Homo sapiens: one gene and its partners. The protein of the gene in region 3 purifies or fractionates together with the protein of the main gene of each other region. This does not show direct contact. Each region holds a gene or a part of one and is shown on either strand. Other genes may lie near its edges. The genes, in order: CLSTN1, CELSR1, OIT3, METRNL, OAF, NXPH4 and COL12A1.

Evidence for each region.
Region 1: the proteins of OIT3 (region 3) and CLSTN1 purify together in Homo sapiens (affinity purification with mass spectrometry; one large-scale study listed by BioGRID and IntAct). This does not show direct contact.
Region 2: the proteins of OIT3 (region 3) and CELSR1 purify together in Homo sapiens (affinity purification with mass spectrometry; one large-scale study listed by BioGRID and IntAct). This does not show direct contact.
Region 4: the proteins of OIT3 (region 3) and METRNL purify together in Homo sapiens (affinity purification with mass spectrometry; one large-scale study listed by BioGRID and IntAct). This does not show direct contact.
Region 5: the proteins of OIT3 (region 3) and OAF purify together in Homo sapiens (affinity purification with mass spectrometry; one large-scale study listed by BioGRID and IntAct). This does not show direct contact.
Region 6: the proteins of OIT3 (region 3) and NXPH4 purify together in Homo sapiens (affinity purification with mass spectrometry; one large-scale study listed by BioGRID and IntAct). This does not show direct contact.
Region 7: the proteins of OIT3 (region 3) and COL12A1 purify together in Homo sapiens (affinity purification with mass spectrometry; one large-scale study listed by BioGRID and IntAct). This does not show direct contact.

The regions. Positions count from the first base shown.
Region 1 is NC_000001.11:9,733,466-9,736,965, forward strand, and holds part of CLSTN1 (calsyntenin-1 isoform 1 precursor), read right to left. Parts: intron 2,578-3,500; coding exon 2,420-2,577; intron 2,151-2,419; coding exon 2,002-2,150; intron 1,710-2,001; coding exon 1,483-1,709; intron 678-1,482; coding exon 507-677; intron 82-506; coding exon 1-81. UniProt on the Homo sapiens protein: Postsynaptic adhesion molecule that binds to presynaptic neurexins to mediate both excitatory and inhibitory synapse formation.
Region 2 is NC_000022.11:46,534,821-46,538,875, forward strand, and holds the start of CELSR1 (cadherin EGF LAG seven-pass G-type receptor 1 isoform 1 precursor), read right to left. Parts: upstream 2,801-4,055; 5' UTR 2,351-2,800; coding exon 1-2,350. UniProt on the Homo sapiens protein: Receptor that may have an important role in cell/cell signaling during nervous system formation.
Region 3 is NC_000010.11:72,917,739-72,921,238, forward strand, and holds part of OIT3 (oncoprotein-induced transcript 3 protein precursor), read left to right. Parts: intron 1-3,500.
Region 4 is NC_000017.11:83,082,609-83,086,108, reverse strand, and holds part of METRNL (meteorin-like protein isoform 1 precursor), read right to left. Parts: intron 1,172-3,500; coding exon 786-1,171; intron 1-785. UniProt on the Homo sapiens protein: Hormone induced following exercise or cold exposure that promotes energy expenditure. Induced either in the skeletal muscle after exercise or in adipose tissue following cold exposure and is present in the circulation.
Region 5 is NC_000011.10:120,224,532-120,228,031, forward strand, and holds part of OAF (out at first protein homolog precursor), read left to right. Parts: intron 1-1,129; coding exon 1,130-1,264; intron 1,265-2,284; coding exon 2,285-2,465; intron 2,466-3,500.
Region 6 is NC_000012.12:57,223,294-57,226,793, reverse strand, and holds the end of NXPH4 (neurexophilin-4 precursor), read right to left. Parts: intron 1,917-3,500; coding exon 1,047-1,916; coding exon of another isoform or gene 848-1,046; 3' UTR 345-847; downstream 1-344. UniProt on the Homo sapiens protein: May be signaling molecules that resemble neuropeptides and that act by binding to alpha-neurexins and possibly other receptors.
Region 7 is NC_000006.12:75,122,554-75,126,053, forward strand, and holds part of COL12A1 (collagen alpha-1(XII) chain long), read right to left. Parts: intron 2,721-3,500; coding exon 2,574-2,720; intron 1,819-2,573; coding exon 1,702-1,818; intron 1,542-1,701; coding exon 1,395-1,541; intron 852-1,394; coding exon 777-851; intron 1-776. UniProt on the Homo sapiens protein: Type XII collagen interacts with type I collagen-containing fibrils, the COL1 domain could be associated with the surface of the fibrils, and the COL2 and NC3 domains may be localized in the perifibrillar matrix.

The DNA of each region.
Region 1 (3,500 bases), on a different chromosome or scaffold from region 3:
GGTCAAGCAAGGACCTGGCATGCCAGTTCCGATAGCGCAGCAGGTGCAAAACCTCCTCGTAGCTGGCCATGGTGTCCACGCCTGCAGGGGTTGAAAGGGGGAAGATTGCCGGGTGGCTTAGGGCAGGAGCATGGGCAGGGCTGCAGCCGTCAGCACAGGCAGGCTCAATTAGACACCCAGGTTAGCTAGGCCAAGGGGTCACACAAGTTGGCTTTCTAGCCATGGGAATAAATGCAATGTGCACAGGGGCATTCTTCCCTCTGTGGGGGACGTGTCATCCCACGCCTCAACCCTCCCCCTTTAGAGAGTAGTGGCTACACATCCGGTACCTGTCCAGGAGACAGGAGTATGCGTGCAGCCAACAATGATCCCAGCGAACGTGCTCCTTCCCCATCTCCCTCTAAGATAACTCAACATTCTCAGATGGCAGGCAGCAGCCAGCCAAGAGCTCTCAAAGTCCCCTCTTGCAGCCTGGCCCACCTGCGTGGCTGCAGCGCTCCCCTTACCTGTGAAGGTCATGCCCAGTTCAGAGCTGCTCACTTCAATGCCCTTCTGCTGCAGGCGGGCCATGTCCACCTCCAGGCTCTCCTGCTCGTGGTTCAGCTCCTCTCCCTCCACCGTGACCTCACAGGTATCCAGGTCGTGCACGATCTCCTCGGACACCAGTGATTCTTGAACTGCAAAAGAGGCCCAACCAGAAATATTAAGTAGGGGCAGTGGGGCCCAGCGTGGCGGGGCACACTGGATGCCCTGCCGGCTCACCCCAAACCTACATGGCTCTCGTAAGGACCAACGACAGAAGCAAGCGAGAGTTGCTTTCAAGAAACGGCTGGGCGCAGTGGCTCACGCCTGTAATCCCAGCACTTTGGGAGGCCAAGACGGGTGGATCACCTGAGGTCAGGAGTTTGAGACCAGCCTGGCCAACAGGGTGAAAGCCCGTCTCTACTAAAAATACAAAAATTAACCGGGCGTTGTGGCAGGTCCCTGTAATCCCAGCTATTCGGGAGGCTGAGGCAGGAGAATCGCTTGAACTCAGGAGGTGGATGCTGCAGTTAGCCAAGATGACACCATTGCACTCCAGCCTGGGCGACAGAGTGAGACTCCATCTCAAAAAAAAAAAAAAAGGGGGGGAGTTTCATGTGTCCTGAGCAAGAATTGTGGGGACATTGTGCCTCCATGGGCTGGCCAGCCTGGCAGGTGCAAGCAGTGTCTCCCGTAAGTGCCCTCAACCCCTCAACCTCAAGCCACATCTCAAAGCCTGGCAGCAACCAGGAAAAGATGTAAGACCCCTCCAGATGGGATTCCAGAGATCACCATGAGCTCCAGCTCACGGGTCAGATTCCAGAAGCACACCCGAGAGAACACCAACGAAAGATTAAAACCTCCCCAAATCCCACAGAGACAAAGAGCCCCGCCAAGTACATGGGGACAATGGGGTTTCCGGCCGAGGCGAGGGAGCCCGCGCCCCACAGAGCACATTACCTGTGGGGTCCTCAGCCCCGTCCCCTTCAGGCTCCACTTCTCTCGTGATGGTGCTGATGATGCGAAGCTCAGGGAAAAGGAACACCCCTTCTGAGCTTTCAAATTCAGAAGCTGCTCGGGCAAAATGGTGGACGCCACTCAGGCTGATCTTGGGCTCCTCGGGCTGTAAAACCATCACGTAGCCATCTACCGGGGGGACCGAAATGCAGGTGGCCTCGTTAAAACACCTGCCAGCAAGAAATGGGGAAGGGTCAGGGCTTTGGGAGCCGATCTTGGAGCCCACCTGTGCAAAGGCACATGGAGGTGGGATACAGAGGCCCCCACTAACACCTGCCGGGGCCACTCCAGGAACACACTTGCAAACAAGATGCGTAAATATCACTCAGCTCTCTGCCCCACACTTTCTGGTTACACACGATGGCTCACCTTTCCTTACAGAAGGGGTTAGGCTGTCTTAAAAACCTAAATATACAAGTGTCATTGGGCAAAACAGGCCGGCTGTTAAAAATCAGGACGTACTTGATTGTGCTGGTGATTTTGAGTCTGCGAATTCCGGGCGTGGGGAACTGCCGGGAGTTCAGGTACGAGATGTGCTGCATGGCCTTATCCAATTCCCCGAGGTCTTCTCCCTCCAAGGTCAATACCAACTGGCTGGGGTGTGCTTGGATCTGAAATCACACCAGCCACAGAGAGGAGAAGAATAAGCCAGTAACCGCAGGAGCTGAAACCACAGATGCCTCCACAAAGGGGACTGGCCTGGGTTCGATTTGAATTGCTGACTTGAAAAAGAAAAGCTCGTTTAAGTCCAGTGAACACAACTCTTTTACCCAACAGTAAACGTATCAATCACAGATTACTCACTCCCTCATCCCACCAGCCTCCGGGGCTGTAGTCTAAGGGGCCCATGAGTGGTGTGCAGTCGAGCGCTCGGTGTTACCTGCACGCCTCTGCCACTGTCTTCGAGGACCTGCAGGTCCAGCCCCTCCTTGCAGGTATACAGACAGTCGATCACCTTCTTATCCGCGAGTTTCCCGGAACGGAGAGTTAAGCCAGCCAGATTGCCTCGGAAAAACTGGGTCATGTGCAGGTCGCCACCTTTGGGTCAGGGGAGAAAAGGCGAAGTCAGGCGTGCAACCCAGCATCGCCCAACTCACTTCTCACTCAACACGGTGTTACCGGTGCTGGCAGCTCAGTGGATGGACATGCGGGTTAGTTCATACCAAGTCCTGTTAGCCTTGCAATCTACATGGAAGCGCAATGAAGAAATTAAACCGTTTATGATCATGCACATGGCCTGGAGAAAGGGAGAGTTGGGGGTGTCTCACCTGAAGCCAAGAGGTCCCCTGAGGGTCCCCACACCTCTGGCCACTACCTGGTAAGGTGGCCTACCCTGTTCTCATCACCAGGGTGCATGGTGACACTTCCTACGCCACCAGCCTCTCCAGCCACTGCCTTCTCAGCTGGCTGGGTTCCACATGGCTGTTTTCTCTACCTGGCACGCCCTGGGGAATGAACCCACACAAGCGAGGCAGGGAGGATAAAAGGGAGGCTTAAAATACTCCCTGCATGGAACGGCCTATTTCAAGGATGCTATGGTGTTAAGTCCCATCCTTCCTGCCTCCTCCTGAGGATTGCTGAGAAGTGCAGATGTTACAACGAAAACCAAAACCCAGAAAATGGCCCTTGACAGATGACAACAAAGAGCCAGAAACAGGTTACACTAAACCTTGTTCTTAAACTGAAAAGGAAAAGGGACAAATTTTCAGCAATGTGTCTCATTCTGGTACAGAAATCAGGCACTGTAAATCATGACTAGGAATTGAGGTTTCTAAGAAACGGCTATTTGCCAGGCATGGTGGCTCACGCCTGTAATCCCAGCGCTTCAGGAGGCCGAGGCGGGTGGATCACCTGAGGTCAGAGTTTGAGACCAGCCTGGCGAACATGGCGAAACCCCGTCTCTACTAAAAATATAAATATTAGCTGGGCATGGTGGTGCATGCCTGTAGTCCCAGCTACTT
Region 2 (4,055 bases), on a different chromosome or scaffold from region 3:
TGTTGGCATCAGTGACGTTGATTAGGACATGCGCAGTGTGCGACCGTGTGCCGTCGGATGCTGTCACCGCCAGCACGTACTGCTGCTCCTGCTTGTAGTCCAGAGGTAGCGCCAGGGTGATGAGGCCGCCCCCTCTCTGGCTGCTGAGTGCAAAGCGGTTCCGGGTGTTGCCGCCTGTGAGCTGGTAGGTAATCACACTGTTGGCGTCACGGTCGCGGGCCTGCAGGGTCAGCACGCTGCTCCCCACGGCCGCATCCTCATTCAGACGAAGCTCGTAGGTGGGCTGCGTGAACACCGGGTCGTTGTCATTCACGTCCAGCACCGTGATGGACACGCTGGTGGAGGAGCTCATGGGGGGCGAGCCGTGGTCCACCGCCTCCACCCCGAAGCTGTAGTGCTCCACCTCCTCGCGGTCCAGCTCGGCACACACTGTGATCCAACCGGAGCTGTTGTGGATCTGGAAGGGGAAGTCAGGGGTGGGGGCAGGATTCTTAGGCCCAGCGCTGCCGCCCCCCAGAAAGGTGGAGGCCGTGTCCACCAGGCGATAGTGCAGCCGGGCGTTCTCTCCAGAGTCCGCGTCCACCGCCTGAATGTGCACCACGGGGTAGCCCAGGGGCACATTCTCCAGCACCGTGGCCTGGAAGGGGCTGCTCACAAAGATAGGCTCGTTGTCGTTGACATCCAGCACCTGCACAGACACCACCCCTGAAGAATTGATGAGCGGGGGCCGGCCCCCATCCTGGGCCTTAATGCTCAGCGAGTATTTCTGGACATCCTCGAAATCCAAGGGGTTGATCACATCCAGGATCCCGCTCAGCGAGTGCAGGTAGAACTGGCCGGCCACGTTCCCGCTGAGGATGCTGTAGTGAATGGCCGCGTTCTGGCCCTGGTCCCGGTCCGTGGCCTGCACTCGCAGCACAGCCGTGTTGAGCCCCACGTCCTCGGGCACCTGGACCACGTAGTTCTGCTCGCTGAACTGGGGGTAGTTGTCGTTCTCGTCCTCCACCTCGATGTACACGGTGGCCGTGGCACTGAGCGGGCCCGGATTGCGCCCCTGGTCGTTGGCCTCCACCAGGAGCTGGTACTCGGCCGCCTCCTCCCGGTCCAGCACCGCCCGTGTGCTCACCACGCCAGAGCTCTCGTTGAGCTGGAAGACGTCCCACGCGCCCCCCAACACGCGGTAACGCAAGTTGGCGTTGATGGGCGAGTCGCGGTCGCTGGCGCGGATGGTCAGCACCTCGTAGCCCACCTCCAGGTTCTCCCGCACGCGCTCGCGGTACTCCGACTGCTCGAAGACCGGGCTGTGGTCGTTGGTGTCTTTGACCAAGACAGTGATGTAGGTGGTGGCCGAGCGCGGCGGCGTACTGTAGTCCACGGCTTTCACCCTGAGGACGTGCGTCTCCTTGGTCTCGCGGTCCAGTACGCTGTCCGTGCTCACGGCGCCCGTGGCAGAGTCGATTCGGAAGTAGCCCCGGGAGCGCTCGTCGAACAGCCCCTCCATGTAATAGCTCACGCGCTCCTCCTCGCCCTCGATGGTGTAGTGCGCGTGCAGCTGGAGGATGAGGGTGCCCGCCGGTTCGTTCTCAAACAACGCCACCTGGTAGTTGGGCATCGGAAACTTCAGGCTCCCTCTGCCGCTCGTGCCCCGCCGGGCCCGTCGCGCCGGCCCCGCCCGGGCTTCGGGCAAGTTCGGCGGCAGGGGCGGCGATGGGGATGGCGACGCGGAGGGCGTCCCCGCGGTGGCGGCCTCCAGCGCCAGTCCCACCCGGACGGCGCCAGCCGCGCGCCGCAGGGCGCACAGCAGACGCAGGCGGACCGAGCCGCCCGGCGGCAGGCAGATGGGACGGCCGGGACAGCGGGGCCTGGGGCGCGGCGGGCAGCGGCAGGCGGGTAAGGTGGTCGGAGCTGCGAGCGCCGAATGCTGCGCGGCCGCGCAGCCGCCGGGGACGGGGAAGCAGAGCGCCCCGCAGAGCCGGGCACCGGTTCCGCAGAGCCGGGCACGGGCTCCGCAGCCGGGAAGGTGCGTGCGCGCCCGCAGGCGGCGGCTCAGCGCCGTCGGGGCACTGCGGGCCACCAAGCGGACTTGCAGCGGCAGCGGGCGCCCCGCGCCCGAGACGCGCCGACGTCCTGCCAGCCGCCCATCGCGGCCCACGTCCAGCAGCTCCCGCGGCGCCCGGGGCGTGCAAGCGGCGCCCACCGCGTAGGTACAGCCGGGCCGGAGGGCGAAGGCGCGGGTCCCGCCGGGTACGCGCGGCTCCCAGGCGGCCGCTCGCAGCCCCATCGCCGGCAGGGCGGCGGCGGCGGCCAGGAGCAGCAGCACGGGCAGCACGGGCGGCGGCGGCGGCGCCATGGCCCGGAGCCCGAGCCCGAGCCGGGCGCCCGAACACAATCCATGCACCCGGCGCGCCTCCGCATCCACCCGGCGAGGCCGGGGAGCGGCTCCCGGGCGCCCGGCCCTCGGGGCGGTCCGCGTCCCGCCTCCCCGGGGGCCCTGGCGGGGACTGTGGGGACCACGCGCCCGGCCTCCCCCGCAGCTTCCACTTCGAGAGCACTTTGCGAAAGTTTGCGAAGTTGGTTTCAAGATGGCTCCTCCGCGCGTCCCGGGAGGGCGCCGCGCATCAACCTGCGGCGGCGGCGGCGGCTCCAGGCGGCTCCAGGTGGCTCCGGCGCGGGCTCGGCCGGACGGGCGTGGGAAGCGGGGCGGGCCCGGCGCGGGGCGGGGGCTGAGTTCCCGGAGCGGGCTGGGCAGCTCCGCGCCGCGCAGACCCCGGCGGCCGGCTGCTGCCTGGGCGGTGCGCTTGGCCCGCGCCCACTCCGCCCGCGCTCTCCCCGCCCCCGGCCCGGCCCCGCCCCGCCCCCGGCCCAGCGGCGTATTGTTCGGCCCCGGGGGGAGCCGGCTCGGAGGTGCGCGCCGAGAGGATCGCTATGGAGACGCGAGGGCGCGGCCGGGACGGGGACTGGGGCCCTACTCCCCGGAGGCCTCCCCACCCAGCCTCCCGGTGGGGCGGGGCCGAGGCAACAGGGCCGGGAAAGGTGGGGCTGGGGCCCCCGGTGGCCGCTACCCGTGGGGCGGTGGCTCCGCACCTCGGGCTCGGGGCCGCGGCTCAGAGCCTGGCTCCCCACCCCGGCAGAACAGATCCACGGAGACCGCCGCCAGGAGTGCCGCGCGGGTAGGACCCGGGGGCGGAGGACTGGGGCCGAGAGGCCGGGGAGCCCCCCCCCACCCATTAAGGACTGCGGAGGCTGTCGAGGAGGGTTACCCATTTTACAGCAAGACGCACGGAGGCTAAAATGCTTCACCCCGACTAAAACTCCCTGGACTTTGAAGCCCAATAGGCAGCTACCGGATCTGCGTCCCACTTGGTTTAAAGCGCAACTTTTAAATGAAAGAAGAAAACCCCGGTTGACATAAGGGATTTGGAGAGGACGGCGGAGGCGCGCTCATCTCCCGCGTGCGGCCCGACCCGAGCGTTCGCGGACGCATCGCGGAATCCCCGAGCGTCCGGCTCCTCCCGAAGCGGGTTGCGGGGAAGGCGGGGGGCTGCGGGTCCTGGAAGCTGCCTGGGGCAAGCAAGCACCCGCAGGGATTTAGAGCTGTGCCACAGCCCCTGCCCAGCCTCCTACGGAGGACAGCGGGGGGCGGGGGGCAGAGACCTTAGAGCTTTCAGAAAAGTGACACACACCCCCGCCTCCTGCGGGGAACCACGGGGGGCCGGGGGCAGCTTTAGGTTTGCGTGACGGGTACACCTGCCTCCGGATGGGGCACAGGGATAAAGGGGGTGGAGGCTTAGGACTTGGCGACCCCCCGCATGGGCGGGGCTTTGGGACTGTGCCACCAGCGGCTGGGAAGGGCGCGCACTCCCTTGGTGGCGCTCGGGGCGCCGGAGTCCAGTGCAGCCCTTAGGCCTCCCAGTGGTCGGGGACGGTAGGTGGGGGTCGCCTCTTCTCTCCTAGAAGGGCTTCTCCTGGGGCCGGTCGGAGCGGTGGGGGTGGGAGTAATGCGCAGTCACCCCTAGAACGGGTCTTTTTGGCAAGGGAGGGTCGGATCCTGCAGC
Region 3 (3,500 bases):
AGAGAATCACCTTTTTCTGTACTTGCTTGCATTTTTGCTTTAATGTCTTCTACAGAACTAGGTCCTTTTGGTGTTTTAGGAGTTTTTTCCTGTTTTTTGAAGGATTCTTGTCCTTTTGATCTTGGTGTTGATGATGGTTTTGAGTCTTTTCCATTCTGATTTGACTTCTGTACATTTTTGGCTGGAGTATCTTGTATAGATTTCTTCACTGGTGCTTTTTCTTCAGCTTCCTCATTATCTTCATCATTATCATCATTATCTTCATCATCATCTTCATCTTCTTCATCGTCATCATCATCATCATCATCATCTTCCTCAGCAGCAAGTTTTACTTTTTTCTGTGGAACCTTGCTACCACCTCCAGGGGCAGACTGCTTTCCAGTTATACTTAAGAGTTTCACATCCTCCTCCTCTTCACCTTCTGACTCTGCATCTTCCTCCACAGCTACTAAGTGCTGTCCACTAATATGCACTGTCCCTAAACCACACTTCAACTGTAAGATCACTGGGGGTGTTATTTCAAAGCCCCCAAGAGAAACCGTTGGCTATACAGACATTTTCAAAGTTGCCAGTGTGACTTTAATTGGACTGCCTTCGTAATTCATTGCCTCTGCTTCAACAATGTGCAATTCGTCCTTTGCACCAGCCCTTAAACTGACTGTTTTTAAAGATAACTGGTGCTCATCTTCATCATTATCCACCTTAAAGTGATCATCTTTGTCAGCCTTAATTCACAACCAAAAAGATAGTTCTGGGGCCTCAGGAGGCTCATGTCCATGTCCATCGAATCTTCCATCGGGTGGCGGCACACACTTAGGTGGGAGAGAAGGCGGATGGAGATAAACCACCACTGCTCAAGAGAACAGCCGCACAGGACAGAATCACACCAGGGTACACTTAAGTTTTTAACCCATCTTGAGTTAATTTTCGTATATGGTGTAAGGAAGGGGTCCAGTTTCAATTTTCTGCATATGGTTAGCCAGGTATCCCAGCACCGTTTCCTCATTGCTTGTTTTTGTCAGGTTTGTTGAAGATCAGAGAGTTGTAGGTGTGCAGTCTTATTTCTGGGTTCTCTTTTCTGTTCCATTGATCTGTGTCTGTTCTTGTACCAATACCATGCTGTTTTGATTACTGTAGCCCTGTAGCATAATTTGAAGTTGGGTAGCATGATTCCTCCAGCTTTGTTCTTTTGCTTAGGATTGCCTTGGCTATTCAGGCTCTTTTTTGATTCGATATGAATTTTAAAATAGATTTTTCTGCAAAGAATATCAGTGGTAGTTTAATGGGAAAGCAGTGAGTCTATAAATTGCTTTGGGCAATATGGTCATTTTAATAATATTGATTCTTCCTATGTATTTCCATTTGTTTGTGTCATCTCTGATTTCTTTAAACAGTGGTTTATAGTTCTCCTTTTAGAGATCTTTCACTTCTCTTGTTAGCTGTTTTCCTAGTTATTTTATTCTTTTCGTGGCAATTGTGAATGGGAGTTCATTTGTGATTTGGCTCTCGGCTTGACTGTTGTTTGTATATAAGAATGCCGGCATTTTTGCACCATTGATTTTGTATTCTGAGACTGCTGAAGTTGTTTATCAGCTTAAGAAGCTTTTGGGCTGAGATGATAGGGTTTTCTAGATATGGAATCTTGTCATCTGCAGACAGGGATAGTTTGACTCCTCTCTTCCTATTTGAATGCCCTTTATTTCTTTCTCTTGCCTGATTGCTCTGGCCAGAACTTCCAACACTATATTGAATAGGAGTGGTGAGAGAGTGCATCTTTGTCTTGTGCTTGTTTTGAAGGGGAATGCTTCCAGCTTTTGCCCATTCAGTATGATGTTGGCTATGGGTTTGTCATATATGGCTCTTATTATTTTGAAGTATATTCCTTCAACACCTAGTTTATTGAGCGTTTTTAACATGAAAGGATGCCAAAATTTATTGAAATCCTTTTCTGCATCTGTTGAGATAATCATATGGTTTTTGCCTTTAGTTTTATTTATGTGATGAATCACATTTATTGATTTGCATATGTTGAACCAATCTTGCATCCTGGGGATGAAGCCTACTTGATCGTGGTGAATAAGATTTTTGATGTGCTGCTGGATTCAGTTTGCCAGTATTTTGTTGAGGATTTTTGCATCAATGTTCATCAAGGATATTGGCCTGAGGTTTCCTTTTTTTGTTGTGTCTCTGCCAGATTTTGGTTCAGGATGATGCTGGCCTCATAGAATGACTTAAGTAAGAGTCCCTCCCTTTCAATTTTTTGAAATAGTTTCAGTAGGAATGGTACCAGCTCTTCTTTGTACAGGGGGTAGAATTCAGCTGTGAATCTGTCTGGTCCTGGGCTTTTTTTTGGTTGTAGGCTATTACTGCCTCAATTTCAGAGCCTCATTGTTGGTTTGTTCAGGGATTCACAGTCTTGGGAGGGTGTATGTGTCCAGGAATTTATCCATTTCTTCTAGATTTTCTAGCTTATATGCATAGAGGTGTTTATAATATTCTCTGATGGTTGTTTGTATTTCTGTGGGGCCAGGGGTATTATCCCCCTTATCATTTCTGATTGTGTTTATTTGATTCTTCTCTCTTTTCTTCCTTATTAGTTTAGCTAGTGGCCTATCTATTTTATTAACTTTTTGGAAAAACCAGCTCCTAGATTTGTTGATCTTTTGAATGGTTTTTTGTGTCTCTGTCTCTTCCAGTTCACCTCTAATTTTGGTTATTTCTTGTCTTCTGCTAGCTTTGGGATTTGTTTGCTCTTGGTTCTCTAGTTCTTTTAGTTGTGATGTCGGGTTGTTAACTTAAAATCTTTCTAGCTTTTGATGTGGGCATTTAGTGCTATAAATTTCTCTCTTAACACTGCCTAACCTGTGCCCCTGAGATTCTGGTATGTTGTATCTTTGTTTTCATTAGTTTCAAAGAACTTCTTGTTTTCTGCTTAATTTCATTATTTACCCAAAAGTCATTCAGAAGCAGGTTATTACATTTCCATGTAATTGTATGGTTTTGAGTGAATTTCTTAGTCTTGAGTTCTAATTCGATTGTGCTGTCATCTGAGAGCCTGTTATGATTTCAGTTCTTTTGCATTTGCTGAGGAGTGTTTTACTTCCAATTATGGATCAATTTTAGAGTAAGTATCATATGGTGATGAGAAGAATGTATATTCTGTTGTTTTGGGGTGGAGACTTCTGTAGATAATTATCAAGTCCAGTTGATCCAGAGCTGAGTTCAGGTCCTAAATATCTTTGTTAATTTCTGTCTTGATGATCTAATATTGTCAGTGGGGTGTTAAAGTCTCCCACTATTATTGTGTGGGAATCTAAGTCTCTTTGAAGGCCTCTAAAAACTTGCTTTATGAATCTGGGTGCCCCTGTGTTGGGTGCATATATATTTACGATAGTTAGCTCTTCTTGTTGAATTGAACCCTTTATCATTATGTGACATTCTTCTTTGTCTTCTTTGATCTTTGCTAGTTTAAAGTCTGTTTTGTTGGAAGCTAGGATTGC
Region 4 (3,500 bases), on a different chromosome or scaffold from region 3:
TCCTGGTGTCTACCCACAGAATTTTCTAGAGACCAACACAGCCCTCCACGAAGGACCTCTCCCCCAAGCACAGGCGTCCAGAGACGCCACGTGACACCTCCACTCCCTGCCGGCCACACAGGGAAGCTGTCTGTTTATCGTACCCACAAGACCCCTCTGGGACGGGGGTGGCCCCATGTTCTGGGCGTCACAGCTCAGCACCGCTCAGGGCTGAGCCAGCCTCAGCTCCCACCCAAAAATGGACGTTTCAGGGTCTTTAGCCGACACCACAGACACCCAGCCAATTCCCAGGGCAGTTTGAATGGCAAAAGCACCCGTTTCAAAGGTGCTACACGATCCACAAGCATGGGGGCGCGTCCGACCCAGCACTGGCCCGGCCGCCACAGGGGGATGCTCACCATGCTCCCCAGACACACCTCCAGGGAGAGAGGCCCCGCTCGGCCAAGGCCATGCCGCCCGAAACACTAACCCAGATGGGCCAGTCTTTTCAAAGGTGGTTTTAGTTGGAAAGGCTGCATTTCCAAGATGGTTTAGTTTAGACATCCCACACCCCCCTACACCATGTCACACCCCCTAGGAGGGCCCCTCTGCGGGCGCCAGTGTCCCCCAACCCCAGCCACCTGGGGGGCTCTTCAGGCAAAACAGTCATGTCCGAAGCACAGACACAGAAGGGTTTTCACCAAGGCTGAGCAGACGAGGGGACAGGAAGAAATCAGAGACACCTGCCACATCACCAGCCCCGTGATGACGAGGCCCGCCGCCCCCGCCCCAGGCAGGACACTCACCAGACAGCTCGTGCAGGTCCGACGCCCTGTGCCTCCTAACCAGCTCGTACTGGAAGCCTGTGGTCCTCCGGCCGATATCCTGCTGCGGCGTGGCCTCCACGAACAGGCCGCCCTGCTCCAGGCCAAAACACTGCACCCGGCCGGGCCTGCCGTCCCCGTCTGGTACCAGCAGTCTCAGTTCTCCAGTTTTTTCCAAATAAATATTGGCCCCCGAGGAGTCCGTGAAGGACCTGATGCACACGGTCAGGTGCCGGGCAGGCGAGAAGGTGTTGGGCCGCAGGTTAACGATGAGAGCACCTGTTGGGTACATCCACTCCACGGCACCCGCCGCACAGCGCAGATACACCTGCTCCACCTCCTTCCTGTGTGCCTCGTGCGTCAGCCCGCTGCAGAGGAGAGACACTGTCAGCCAGGCCCGGAGCTCCCGTCACACACCCCACCCGCACCCACAGAGAGTCAGTGAGGACGATACCCGCTCCAAATGATGGCGGCTCCTGGACCCACCCGCTGCCGGCCACAGGTGCCACACGGACCCCTGCCCGTGAGGCAGGCCGGCGCCATCTCCGCCCTTCGGCACAAGGGCCCCACCCAGTTCCTTCCAGTGCACCTGCACCAAGAGCCATGGTGGGGCGGGGCCGAGCTCCCGGGAGTGCAGGCGGTGCTTGTCCCCAGGCCCTCCAGACACCCTCCAACACTCAAGAGTCTGCGCCTCTGCTGCCGTAGCGTCAAACACCAATCTCTGCGATGTCCCTGAATCAGGGTGGCTGGAGGTGCTGGGGCAGTGGGATGGAGCCCCAGGGAAGGGATGGATTCCTCCAGAATATCACGGAGTATCACAGGAATGCCAGCAGGCCCTGTGTACCAACCCTGGTTCCAGATGACCACGAGGGCTGGGACGCTAGAGGTAAAGCGAAGGTGGGGCCCCACCACGTGTGAAGGAGGAGCCCTGGGATGCAACCTGCCCAGAGAGCAGCTTTTAAGTTAATCCAGAGTGTTGGCAGTTTGGGGGGAAGGAGGTTGTAGATGAGTTTTGTCTTTTAGCACCTCATTAAGCATAGATGTTTGTACATTTCTCAAAGTAATGACTTGACCGTTTTCTGCAAGCCTGAAGACCCTGCACTGCCGACGGTATTTGTAAATATAAGCTATCATTACAGCAAGACTCACCACAAAAGCGAGGCGAACTTCCTCCACAGGGTGAGTAGTGTGTGAGTAGCAAGCTAAGTTCACCCTCATACATGCTAAACAGAAAAAAATGAAGTGTGCTACACTCTTGGAGAGGCAGGTCCTGAGTAGAAACAGTTATATTTTCAAGAAACTGAAACATCAAAACCCTCACGCTTCTCAACACTTTAACGTAAATGCCAGCTCGTGGCTAACAGCCACGTCATAACCAAGTGGGCCTGGAACTAACCCGGTGACTTCAACTAAGTGTTTTATTACGCAGATCTCAGACAGGTTCACCCACATTCTTAGGATTTTTATGTGAAATAAGCAATGCTGTTTCCAGAGCCCTGGCCTGAGCGAGTCACCAGAAACCCTTTCTGCAGCAGAGAAAATGCATCACATATGGTTTGCATTTACCGCTGGTGACTCACACTCTGGGCCCCCAAACCTCACTCTTCATAGGCTGCAGGCCACATCAGAGGGTGGTGTCGAGGGTGCACCCCTCCTCACCCTCTCCCCACCCCGACAAGGCCCCAGGTCACGAGTGGCCAGGCCTAGCCGGCTGCCAGGATCACACACCCAGAACAGACTCACAAATTACAGCCCATAAAGCTCACACAAGCTCATCTAACACGTGTGTGGGCAAGGGCACGATGATCGTGCTGTGTGGAAACTGGACTCGGTGAGTGGCTGATACACTCAGCTACAGTCAGCTCTCTTCTTATGCAGCCTCATCGTCACGTCTCTCCCTCCCGTCTCTGGCATCGAGGCCACTGTCCTCCTGCCCGTGCTCAGGCACCGAGCCTCGACCCTCTCTCCACATACACCGTCCTGACACGTTGCCTCCCTCTCGGGGAGTCCTGAAGGTCGAGGGAGCGGGCTCTGGTCACCTCTGACAGCACTGCCTTCATCTGAGCAGGCGAGGGGAACAGCCACAACTCAGCTGGGGACAGGCGGCCAACCCACCTCTGCCCAGGAGGAGGCCGACTTGAGCCTGGGGGCCGTCCTGGCCTAGCACATGCTACCCGCATCTGGTGGGCACGCCTGGCTCCACCCACTCAGAAGACACTGGGCAAAAAGAGGAAGAGGACAAAATGAAGGTGGACACAGAAGAAAGAAGACACCCGGCTACCCCGGCCTTCACCTGACGTCTTCTCAGCGCACTCAGACGGGTCTGCACCCAGCACAGGGCCTGCTCCCCTCTCCTCTCACATTCTCCCGAAACATCCAGACCAACGGGACTCCAACCAGACCCGCTGACGTAGGGATTTTCACATTAAAATCAGTAGCACATGATGCGCAAGACCCGTGTAGACAAAAAAAGTTAAACGATGCATCCTTCAGCCTGGGACCCAGCAGACCTCGGCACGAAGTCCGAGACTCATGGTCTGTGCTGGTTCCTACCAGAAAATCGAGTGCCTCAAATCTCTCACCTCCAAATATCCAGCACCTCAGCAAACCTGAAAACAGAGTCTGTTTATGCAAAATTGCTGGCATTGCAAAAATGTGACCTATCTTTAATGGTCATGGATGAGGGCATTTTGTGAT
Region 5 (3,500 bases), on a different chromosome or scaffold from region 3:
GACTCCAAGGGGGCCACTCAGAGCCTGTTGCTGAGACACTTCTGTTCTCGCGGGTGTACAGCAAGTACTCAGTGACTGTGTGGTGGGGGGAGCTGGGGCCCGGGCATTAATAGATGATCCACAGAGCTGTCATTCTAAGTCTCAGTGCAGAGCCATAGGGGTTCCCAGCAGAGAATGGTCACTGAGGTCAGGGTGCCTCCACCACAGGAGGGGCCTTGACAGATGTAGACCACTTCTGACTGGGACCCACTAACTTCTCACTGGGAGCAGAGTTAATCAAGTCACAGAGATGGGTAAGAAGGCAAGGGGCCACTTCTCATGTGGTGAGCGGTACAGGTGAGCAGAGCACAGGGCTCCAGCAGCCGGATAGGGAAGGGGGCCCCAGCCCACCCTACAGCTCTACTCCCTCCATCCTGCTGCAGACCCCCCATTCACACAGTGAGTCAGTAACAGGAAGGAGCCCTTGGACTGCGGCAATGCCATTAGCGACCCCATGGGGGAAAGGGGAAGTGGGGAGGGAAAGGAAGAGGCGAGGCATCCTAGCTCCCTCAGGCCGGAAGGCTGCAACAGCTGCAGCCAGCCTCCCACTCTGCCCTCACCCCGTCCCGGCCCCACCACTCCACTCACTCAGTGGTCGGTGGCCAGGAGCCTGGCCAATCAGAAGCACCAAGGGCATCTTGAGACCTCTCCCCAGATCTACTGAATAAGAATGTCTAAGATTTCTAGCCATTACAACTACAAAGAAAAAAAAAAAAGAGGAACTCTGGAATCGGTACTGGAAAAGTCCAGCCCTCCTCCATGATGCCCTGATCAGGTGCCTGTAGAGGCCCTGACCCACCCTGATCAGGGTGACGTTAAGGGGTTCTGCCGAGAGGAATCATCAGCTGGGAAAAACTCTAGTGGTTCACTTTGTCAGTTTTCCAGGATCTTTGGAACATCTGGGGTGTGTTCTTTCTTTCAAGTCACGGGTTTAAACGGAAAAGATAAAAATTCCTAGACCAGCAGGAGGGAGGTGTCTGTTGCCCGGCAGTGTCCAGGCATCCTGTTCAGGGGCCAAGCTGAGCACCCGGTGGGCCAGTGGGAAGGTCCCACACCCTCCAGCCGTTCCCATCCTCCTGCCCTTCTTCAGGATGTGAAGGTCTTCCGGGCCCTGATCCTGGGGGAGCTGGAGAAGGGGCAGAGTCAGTTCCAGGCCCTCTGCTTTGTCACCCAGCTGCAGCACAATGAGATCATCCCCAGTGAGGCCATGGCCAAGCTCCGGCAGGTAAGTGCCCCACCAGGCCTGCCTGGCCCAGGTCCTGACCCGCAGCAGACCCGGCCCAGATCCCATCCCGCAGACCCGGCCCAGATCCTGACCTGCAGACCCGACCCCTGCAGCCAGCCTAGCTCTAAGCTCTGATTCCCCAACCTTAGCCTCCCACCCAGCTCCTCATCTTCACGCTGTTCCTGGACCCACTGCCCTTGACCTGCCCTCATCCCTGGTACCCCATTCACCCTAGAGTCCTGAGCCCCTGATTTTGCCCCAGGCCAAACCTGACCCTAGAGCTGCAGATCACTAACTGAACCCCAACTCTCAGATTTCTCCCATCTGGTTCCAGCACCTCCCCGTGTGTGACAGGCTAGGGGCTTGGGCTCTGAGGTCAGATCAGACATCACATCTCCTCCGTCACTCATTAGTTGGGTGACATTGGACAAGTTACCTTCAAAGCCACAATTTTCTCACTGAAACTGGGTTATGGGGGAATTCAGTGAGCAAACATATGTGAAGTGTTCAAGACCCTCAAAGCTGCCGGCCTGCTCCTGCTGTCTTCTTAGACCCAGGGCCTTGCCCCAGCCTCATCTGAGTTCCCTGGCCTGCCCAGCAGAGCCTGCCCTGGGGGCCTCCTCGCCCCTGCGCTTTGCCTGCTTTCCCAAAGGGACTTGGTTCCCTGGATGTTGGAAAGTACGTGATTCCAGAGGTCATATGCCCTGGCACAGCTTGCCTGGCCCACCCACCTCCACCTCCCATCCACACCTCAGCATTCTCCATCAAGCCCCAGAGGTCAGCCCAGTGGCCAGCACATAGTTTGGGAAGCATCCATTCTGGATAGAGGCTGAAAAGGCTCGACTGTACTCTAGGCATCAGCTTCACTGCCAGTTGGAGAGGGGTGGGGCTGCCACCCTGCAGATGGCCCCAGCGTTCTAAAGGCAGTCAGCTTGGGCTCGCCTGACTCTGGAGGGTCAGGGGAAGATGGACAGGGAGCATTCTGAAGCCAGGTAGGAGTGACTTCTCTCCCACACACAGAAAAATCCCCGGGCAGTGCGGCAGGCGGAGGAGGTTCGGGGTCTGGAGCATCTGCACATGGATGTCGCTGTCAACTTCAGCCAGGGGGCCCTGCTGAGCCCCCATCTCCACAACGTGTGTGCCGAGGCCGTGGATGCCATCTACACCCGCCAGGAGGATGTCCGGTTCTGGCTGGAGCAAGGTCAGCTGGGAGCTGGGCACTGCCCGCTGCTGGGCGGAGGGAAGGGGACAGGGAGACAGCACAGAGCAGTGGAGGAGGGCAGGGGCATCATTAGTTGAGTCTCATCATTAGCCAAGTCTCATCATTAGCCTTTCCTTTGTTCAGGAGACATTTACTGAACACCTACAGAGATGTACTGGCGCAGGAATCAGAGATGTAGACACTCAGTTCCTGTCCCCCAGCAGGGTAGATCTGCACAGAGTTAAGTGTGATAGAATACCATGATAGCTACAGGCGTTCAGGGAGGGACCCCCAAACCAGGCTACAGTTGGTCTGGGAAGGCTTCCTGGAGGAAATGGAGCCTGTGTGATTATTCAGCGAGAAGATTCAGCCAGAGGAAAGGGCCCTGCTCCAGGCAGGGCACACAGACTCTGCTAGGCCCTGTGGAGGGAGATTCCCAGGTACTTCCCCTTGTCCCTGCCCTTAGTGAGGACACAGAGATGGGGCCTTCTGTCATGGGTGTGGGGCACAAGGACACCCTGCCCCCCTCCACTGACACCTCTCAGATATCAGCTTCAGGCCCTCCCTGGTGCCAGCATCTCTGCCCCAAGATCCTTGGAAGCTCCTCTCCATACTGCATGGTCCCTGCCTTCCTGACCTCTGTGACTTCAGCGCTGACCCCTCTCTGGGTACCTTTTCCAGGACCGCCCTCAGGTCCCCTGTGTGGAGGGGAGAGGGAAATGGCGCCATTCCAACTCTGAGCCCCTGTGCCTTCTGCCAGCCAACTGAGCACTGGTGAAATGCCTGCTCCTCCCAGGGCAGGCCCAGATTTAGAAATACCCAACCAAGCTGTGGTCTTGCCCCCCACACACATACACCCTCCCCCATGGCCTGCACCCCAGACTATGCCGCAAGCTTGACATAAGTGTCCTCCAGAAGCTGGCCCCTCCCATACAGCCCCTGAGCCTAATCAGGCCGGTACCTTCCGTCTCCTCCAGCGCCCCAATATGCACACTTTCCCATTTGATCCAAGCCCTGGCCACCCTGACCTGACCT
Region 6 (3,500 bases), on a different chromosome or scaffold from region 3:
CGCTCTGCCTACACTGTCCCTGTCCATCCCATTCAAGGTCTTACACCTCCTTCCCCAAATCGTCCGCTGGTGATCCCCACTCAGGTCTCATTTCCATCCCACTTGCTGCAGCTTCCCTTCGCCCACCTCAGGGAGGAGAATCCCAACCTCAGGCGGGGCTCCTACCCCGAGGGTAACCCTCAGCTCTCTTTGATCTGGTCTTTGGTGACTTCCAAGGTGCTAGCTCTGTCAGTCTTTGTCTTGGTTTCCCCAAGAGCCGCTGAGGGAGAAGGCCTTGGCCAGGTCTCTACCACATAGAAGCCCCACGCCACCTCCCCATTCCCTACAAAGGTCTCACACAGGCGTGTATTGGATTTCACTTTATTTTGTTCCCTTTCCCGTCTGTTTTGGCGTAGAAAAAATATCACCGAGAGGAAGCAGCAGGAGAGGGCAGGTGGAGCTCGACTGCCTGGACTGGAGGGGGGCGGGCAGGGGCAGGGGCCGGGGGCAGGGCCAGGGCCTCAGCCCAGGGGTTCTGCTTCCGGTACCCTAATAGGGTTTGGAGGAAAAGGGGACAGGCATATGGCAGGCAGAATGGTGGGAGGACAGGCCGAGGTTTTTAGGCCTTTACAGTCTTAGGCGGGGTAGGGTGAAGCAGGACAAGCGCTGGGGGATGGGAAAGTCAGGGTGGGGTGAGGGTGCCAGGCCAGGAGTTATTAAAGCTGCGGGGAAAGGGAGTGCGCAGCCTAGCGCCAAGGGTGAAAAGGGGACCCACTGTGGACCCAGGGGACATTGGGACCGCCTCCAAGCCCCGCCTATTCTGGGGCTGCACTCTTATCCCTTTCACTTTGGGGTGTACTGGAGGGGGCTACCCCAGCCTTGCGGGCACTCCGCATAAGGAAAAGGGCACCCACGCTAGCTGAGGGTCCCGAGAAGCCATTCCCCTCCGCCCCCAGAGTGGAAGGAGTGGGCGACATGGCCACAGGAGCGGCAGAACACTGGGAAGGGGGTCCCACCTAGTGAGGCTGGGATTTGGCGGGAGGCTCAGGACTGGCTGGGGAGGGGCGCTATCCGAAGTAGGGGTGCTCACTCTGGAAGTTATAGTCTGGGCACACCTTCTGCACCAGTTTGTAGTCAAAGCTGAGGAAAGAGACGAAGATACAGATGACTTTGAAGGGCTTGGCACAGAGCCAGGCGGCCTGGCTCTGCGTGTGCTCGGTGAAGCACACCTGCGACGGGTCGTACAGGCACGGTCGGTGCTTGCGCGCGCGGTTTGTCTTCTCATACTCCACGTGGCAATTGAAAGCGCGTGACTCTTTGGCCCCAGGCACTCCCAACGCGCCCCCAAGCGGCCCCGCCAGTGCGCCCCCGAGGGAGCCCCCAAGCCCGGGCCCCGCCGCTGCTGCTGCCATCCCCAGCGGGGGCCCCAGCCCAGGAAGCACCCCCTCCAGGGCGAGCGTAGACTGCAGAGGGTGGGGGACAGGCCCGGGCAGCCAGACTCCTCCGAACTCGACACGCTTGGAGGGCGGCACGATGCTGACACTGAGGTTGCCCAGGCTGGACGAGTTGTGGCGGAAATACACACTGAAGGTACCGTTCACATGGTCCACGATCTTGCCGGTCACCAGCAGCGAAAACTTGAGGGTATGCACCCGAAAGTAGAAGTCCCCCCAGCCGAAGATCTTTTTGGCGCGCGCCGCCTTGATGGACGGCTTCCTCTTGGTGCGCTGCGCGGGCAACGCCCCGGCTGCCCCTGCCCGGGCCAGCGCCCCCGTGTGGTTGGTCGGCCAGGCCCAGCTCCAGGCGCGGCCCACGCCTAGGCCGTCCGAAGACCTTGGCTCTGGGAGCTGCTGGCCGGGGGCACCCGCTCCGGCCGCGGCGGGGCGCAGCCCCAGGTACTGCGGCCTTCCGGACTCTGGTATCTGGGCACTGACGGCCTGTGCACGAAGAAAGAGGAGAGAGAGACGCTGGGGTTGTCCCCCGCCATCCTGCCAGAGCCCTATCGACGCCAGTCCCTTTCCACAGCCGCTAGGAGACCAAATGGAATCACGCAGTCCCGCAGCGGGCAGGGAGCGTGCCTTGGAGGAGAACTGCAGCCCTTTCAAGCTATGTAGTCTTGGCCCAGTCACTTCATGGATCTGGGCCTCAGTTTGTACATCTGTGAAATGACGTCAAGAATCCTGATGTGGCCCACAGAGCTCCAATGAGGGCCAAAAACCCAAAGCCAGTGTGAAGGTGAGTAGGGAGTGGAGCTCTGGATCCTGGCTCATCTTTCCTGGCCCGGCACCTGGTTGGTTCCAGTAATGAGCCAGGGAGGGACTGGACTCTGAGCAAACTGAGCCAGGGAGGCTGTGACCACATTAACATCCAGCATCAAGAAAGAGGCTCCCGCCCGGCACACGCGGTGACTCACGCCTGTAATCCCAGCACTTTGGGGGGCTGAGGTGGGCAGATTGCCTGAGGTCAGGAGTTCAGTTCGAGACCAGCCTGGCCAACATGGAGAAACCTAATCTCTACTAAAATTAGGCGGGCGTTCTGGGGTGCGCCTGTAGTCCCAGCTATTGGGGAGGCTGAGGTGGAAGAATCACTTGAACCTGGTAGGTGGAGGTTGCAGTAAGCCTAGATCGCACCATTGCACTCCAGCCTGGGCGACAGAGCGAGACTCCCTCTCAGAAAAAAAAGAAAAGAAAAGAAAAAAGGAAAGGAAAAGAAAAAGAAAAAGAAAGAGGCTCCAGGACCTCAGAGACCAGAGCCCCCACCTGGGCCTCAGCCCCAACTGGCCTGCAAGGAGTGAGTGCTGGGAACCAGTTGAGCAGAGGAGGAAAGCCTGGGTATCCCTCCCAGTCGCCAGTGCTCCACTCTGGTGGAGGCCGCCTGGCCGTTCTTTTCCTGGGCTCCAAGGGGGCTAAGGAGCCCCCTCCTGCTCCCACCCGTTCTATGTGTCTCAGGTGGCCACCGATCTTGGAGACAGCATGGGCTCGAGGACAAGATGGATCGAGAGGCAGGAGCGGCCGGGCCAGGCCCGGGCCATCAATTATCTGGGGTAGGGGTGAGTGGGGGTGGCCAGGAGTGAAGGAGACAGGAAGCAAGAGGAAGAAATATGGAGATGCCGCTCCAGCGAGGGGAGCAGGCAAGAGAGGAGCTGCATGTCAGAGTGTGTCAGTCAGCCTGAGCTAGCCACCACCGCCGCGTGCTGTGGCCCTGACTGTGCACAGGTCCCATGGGGGGAGGCAGTACCATGTGTGTCAGCCTGGGGTTCTGGTGTCTCTGTTAGCCCCAAATGGTTGTGTGTGTGTGGCCGGTACATGTGTGTGTGGCTGTGGTGGCTGTGTGGGTGTGTATCTGGATGCCCATGGTTATGAGTCTGAGGAGCCTGTGTGTGTGTGGCTGCTTGTCGTGGCTGCATGTCTGTTGTGTAAATCGGTGACTGTGTGTATGTGCCTGGATTGGCTGGGTGTGTGTGTCAATTTGTGGAGTGGTGTCTGTGTGACTGGTGTGGTTACGTGTCTGGGTTGGCTATA
Region 7 (3,500 bases), on a different chromosome or scaffold from region 3:
TTACTGAATTTCTTTCTGTATCTAATTTAAAGGAATCCATTATTATTTTACCCCACAATAATACACTTTTAATTTTTAATTTTACTTATATAATAGGTTTAACGAAGTTGTAACGTTCGACATCCTTCTAAGATAAAATAAAAATATCTGAAATGCTTTCTATTAAATGCTGGAAACAGCATATGAGAAAAGAATAATACAGTAGTTATTTAACTAAATTTAATTTGACAAAGTGCTAGAGAATTGCCCTCAAATGCTGAGAGATCAACCTTAATAAATCAGTATGTCGTTTCACCAGTTCACTGCAAGTTACAATTATCTTTCAAATTTTGGTGAATGGAAAATTTTTTAGCATTGTATAATCCAGGGAACTTCTCAGGTTGGACACCAGGAATTTTAAAGCCAACAGCCTCAGGGCTTCGGTCGCAAATATAGCCAAAAGGGTTCACAGCGCTTACTGATGCCAGCAGCTAGCAGAAAGAAATGTCCACCATGTAACTATGGACCATGGAAGACCTAAATCTGTAAAACTGAGGAAACAGACTTCCAGCTGAAGATCTGGAATAATTTATGACTGATTTTATTCACACCAAAATGTGCCCAGAGATGGAGAGAAACAAATTACTGGTTATCTTTTCTTTCAATCTAAAAACTCTTCAGCAGCAATAATAGATCAGAAATGTTCTATATTAATTGTAAATGATGCACATGCAGCGTAAATAAGAAGTCTGTAACTCCCTATCAGCTGAACGTATTGCCTATTTAGCTGTACTTACCATCCCGGGCTGGTGGAATGGTGGGAGGGGGAGGAGGTGTGGGTGGCTCTGTAGGGGCTTCTGTTGGTTTCACAGCTAAAATTTAAAAATAATAATTATAAAAACACACCATGTGCACATTTGATATCCCAGAAAGTAAATTTTAAGAGCAATTTAAATCCTGGATACCAAATCAAGTCGTACAAAATGAGACACCATTGTCATCGGTACTGACATGCTGGGGATTTTATTCCATCCAAATTGATGTCACTGGTAGTCATTCAACATCCACTACAGCTACAGAAAATAAAGATCTAAAGGGAAAATGTAAGGCCTTCAGATAGGGTCAAATGAGTAAAAGTCACTAATATGAATTCACCTTCTCAGCGAGAGCCATCTCTCCCTCCTTTAGCCCTTCCTCAAAGTAGCACCAACTCAATAACAGGGACAACTTGCAAATTGCTACAGAAAAAGGTCCTGAACCAGCTTTAGACTCCACATTCAGGAATCTGCCATCATCCCATCATTATTGCTACCCCTACGGAGAGGTACCTGCACAGGATTCACTTAAGTCTTCCTTACCTAGAGCATTCTATTCTAAAGCCTTATGAAAGCTTTCCAGATTCCTCAAAAACTTACTGGTATGTTCTTTAACAGAGACTCCTGGTCCCTCGAGATTTGGTGTCTGCACAAAAACAGTGACACCATAATCAGTGTCTGGTGAAAGGCCAGTGAAGCAGTGACTGGTTTCTGATCCACGCACTGTAATTTCTTGTCCCCTTGTTCCTGATTATGACAACAAAGGAAAATGCCAGTGTCATCACCAATTATATTTCAAGAAAATTTTATATCGCATTGTTATAAACAAAATGGCATCTTCTTTACTGAAATTTAAAATGTTTCCACTACATGCTCCAGATCATTTTTTTCTTTTTTACACACATACCATCTGCAGGGCTTAGTTTTAGCCTGTAGGAGGTGGCTGCCCGGTGAGGTGACCATTTGACACAGAATGTATCCCACCCAATCTGGTAAGTTTTCAGATCTGTTACATTTAAATATACTACAAAATAAAGAAAGAAAGAGATTTACTTTGTAAATTGAGGCAAAAAGTGTACTTTTAATCATAACACAATTTTCAAACTTTCACTGTGGCTAAAAAAAAGTTCAAAATTGTATTATGTTTCCTTATAAGAAACATACATGAATCATATTTAAAAATGTGGTACTGCCAAAATAGACCCCCCTTTCTTTCGCTGATTTTCAAGGAAAGGAAATTCCATATAGTCCCTCTCAAAACTAAGAATTTCAAAAACATCTCATGGAAAATAATGAAAACAATTTCTAAAAGGCTATCTGCTAAGTCGTTAAATAGTTATCAAAGCAATGGTGACCTTAAAATATATCTGTGGACTGAATCACACTAATCATGATTCAATAATTAAGTCAAATTAAATCAATGAATTTAGGTAATATATATCTTGGTATCAAATGTCAAGAAGAACTAAGTAGCATCACAGATCTAATTTTACAGGTCATTCATGGATAAAATGACAATTTCTATAATTTTTATCTTTTAAAATTCAAAGTATAATATTTTATGTGAAATACACAAATTTCTCACCATATATATTTTTATATACTCAATTATAATATTTATGTATTTGAATAGGTATTTTGTCTAACCAGACACAAAATAGCCTGCCTACATAATGCTGAGGAAACATGTATATGTTCAGAAACAGGAAATTAAAACAGGCTGACCTGGTAATTTCTACTACAGTTTTTCTCACAACCATGAAAATATCCATGACTCACATGTAGTGCCTTGATCTGTCAAGGGGACACTGAGTCCAGAATCATATTGAGCATAAACATTCACATCGTAGGTGGTGCTGGGATTGAGATTGTGTAAGGTATATGATGTCATTTCTCCAACAAAGGCTTCCATGGGCTCATTGGAACCTTTATTAACAACCACAAAAATACACAGAAACATGCCATCAATAGCATGAAATTTTGCTTAAAATTAAAGATCTTATAGTCAAAGGGTATTATGAACACGATTAATTCCATAGTCCTCATACACTTACTCACTGGGGCACATGCTATGTTATATGACAAATATGAAACTGTAAGCAGACACTGAATCCTTCACCCTCCTATTCTCAAAGCATAGCACAGTATTTGGAATATAGTAGGTATATAATCAATGTTTCTTTAGTGAATGAATTCTCAAGCTTCTTTCTCAAGCCCTATTTTGCCAACATAGTGTTTTGCATATAGTAGGTGTCCAACTGACACTTTTTCATTTATTGTAGAGATAATTTAAGAATTTCTATCTTGGACCTCATTCCACATACTTTGGCTGCTAAACTCCTTAGTTACCAACCCCACTTTCTTTTTTAAGTTCTCTTTCTATTTCTTACATAGGTTCAAATTTTACTTCCTTTATCTTGCCATCTCTCTTTCATGTTTTTTCTAGTTCATACTCTTACTGGATATATGGAAGATGCCCTAAGAAATCTGCATTTTTCTTCCAGTTTCTCTAAGAATACAGACAAAATATTAAAACAAAAATAACAAATAATTTAATCAAGGTGATACTAATTTAGGTGAAATTTTCAGAGGGGATTTGAAAGCAAGGCTGTCATGAATAAGCTGCATGGAATCTATGCCCAAAATAAAATAATACCTGGGCATAGTGGGAAAAATACATAGGTATATTGATGTAATATGCATTAT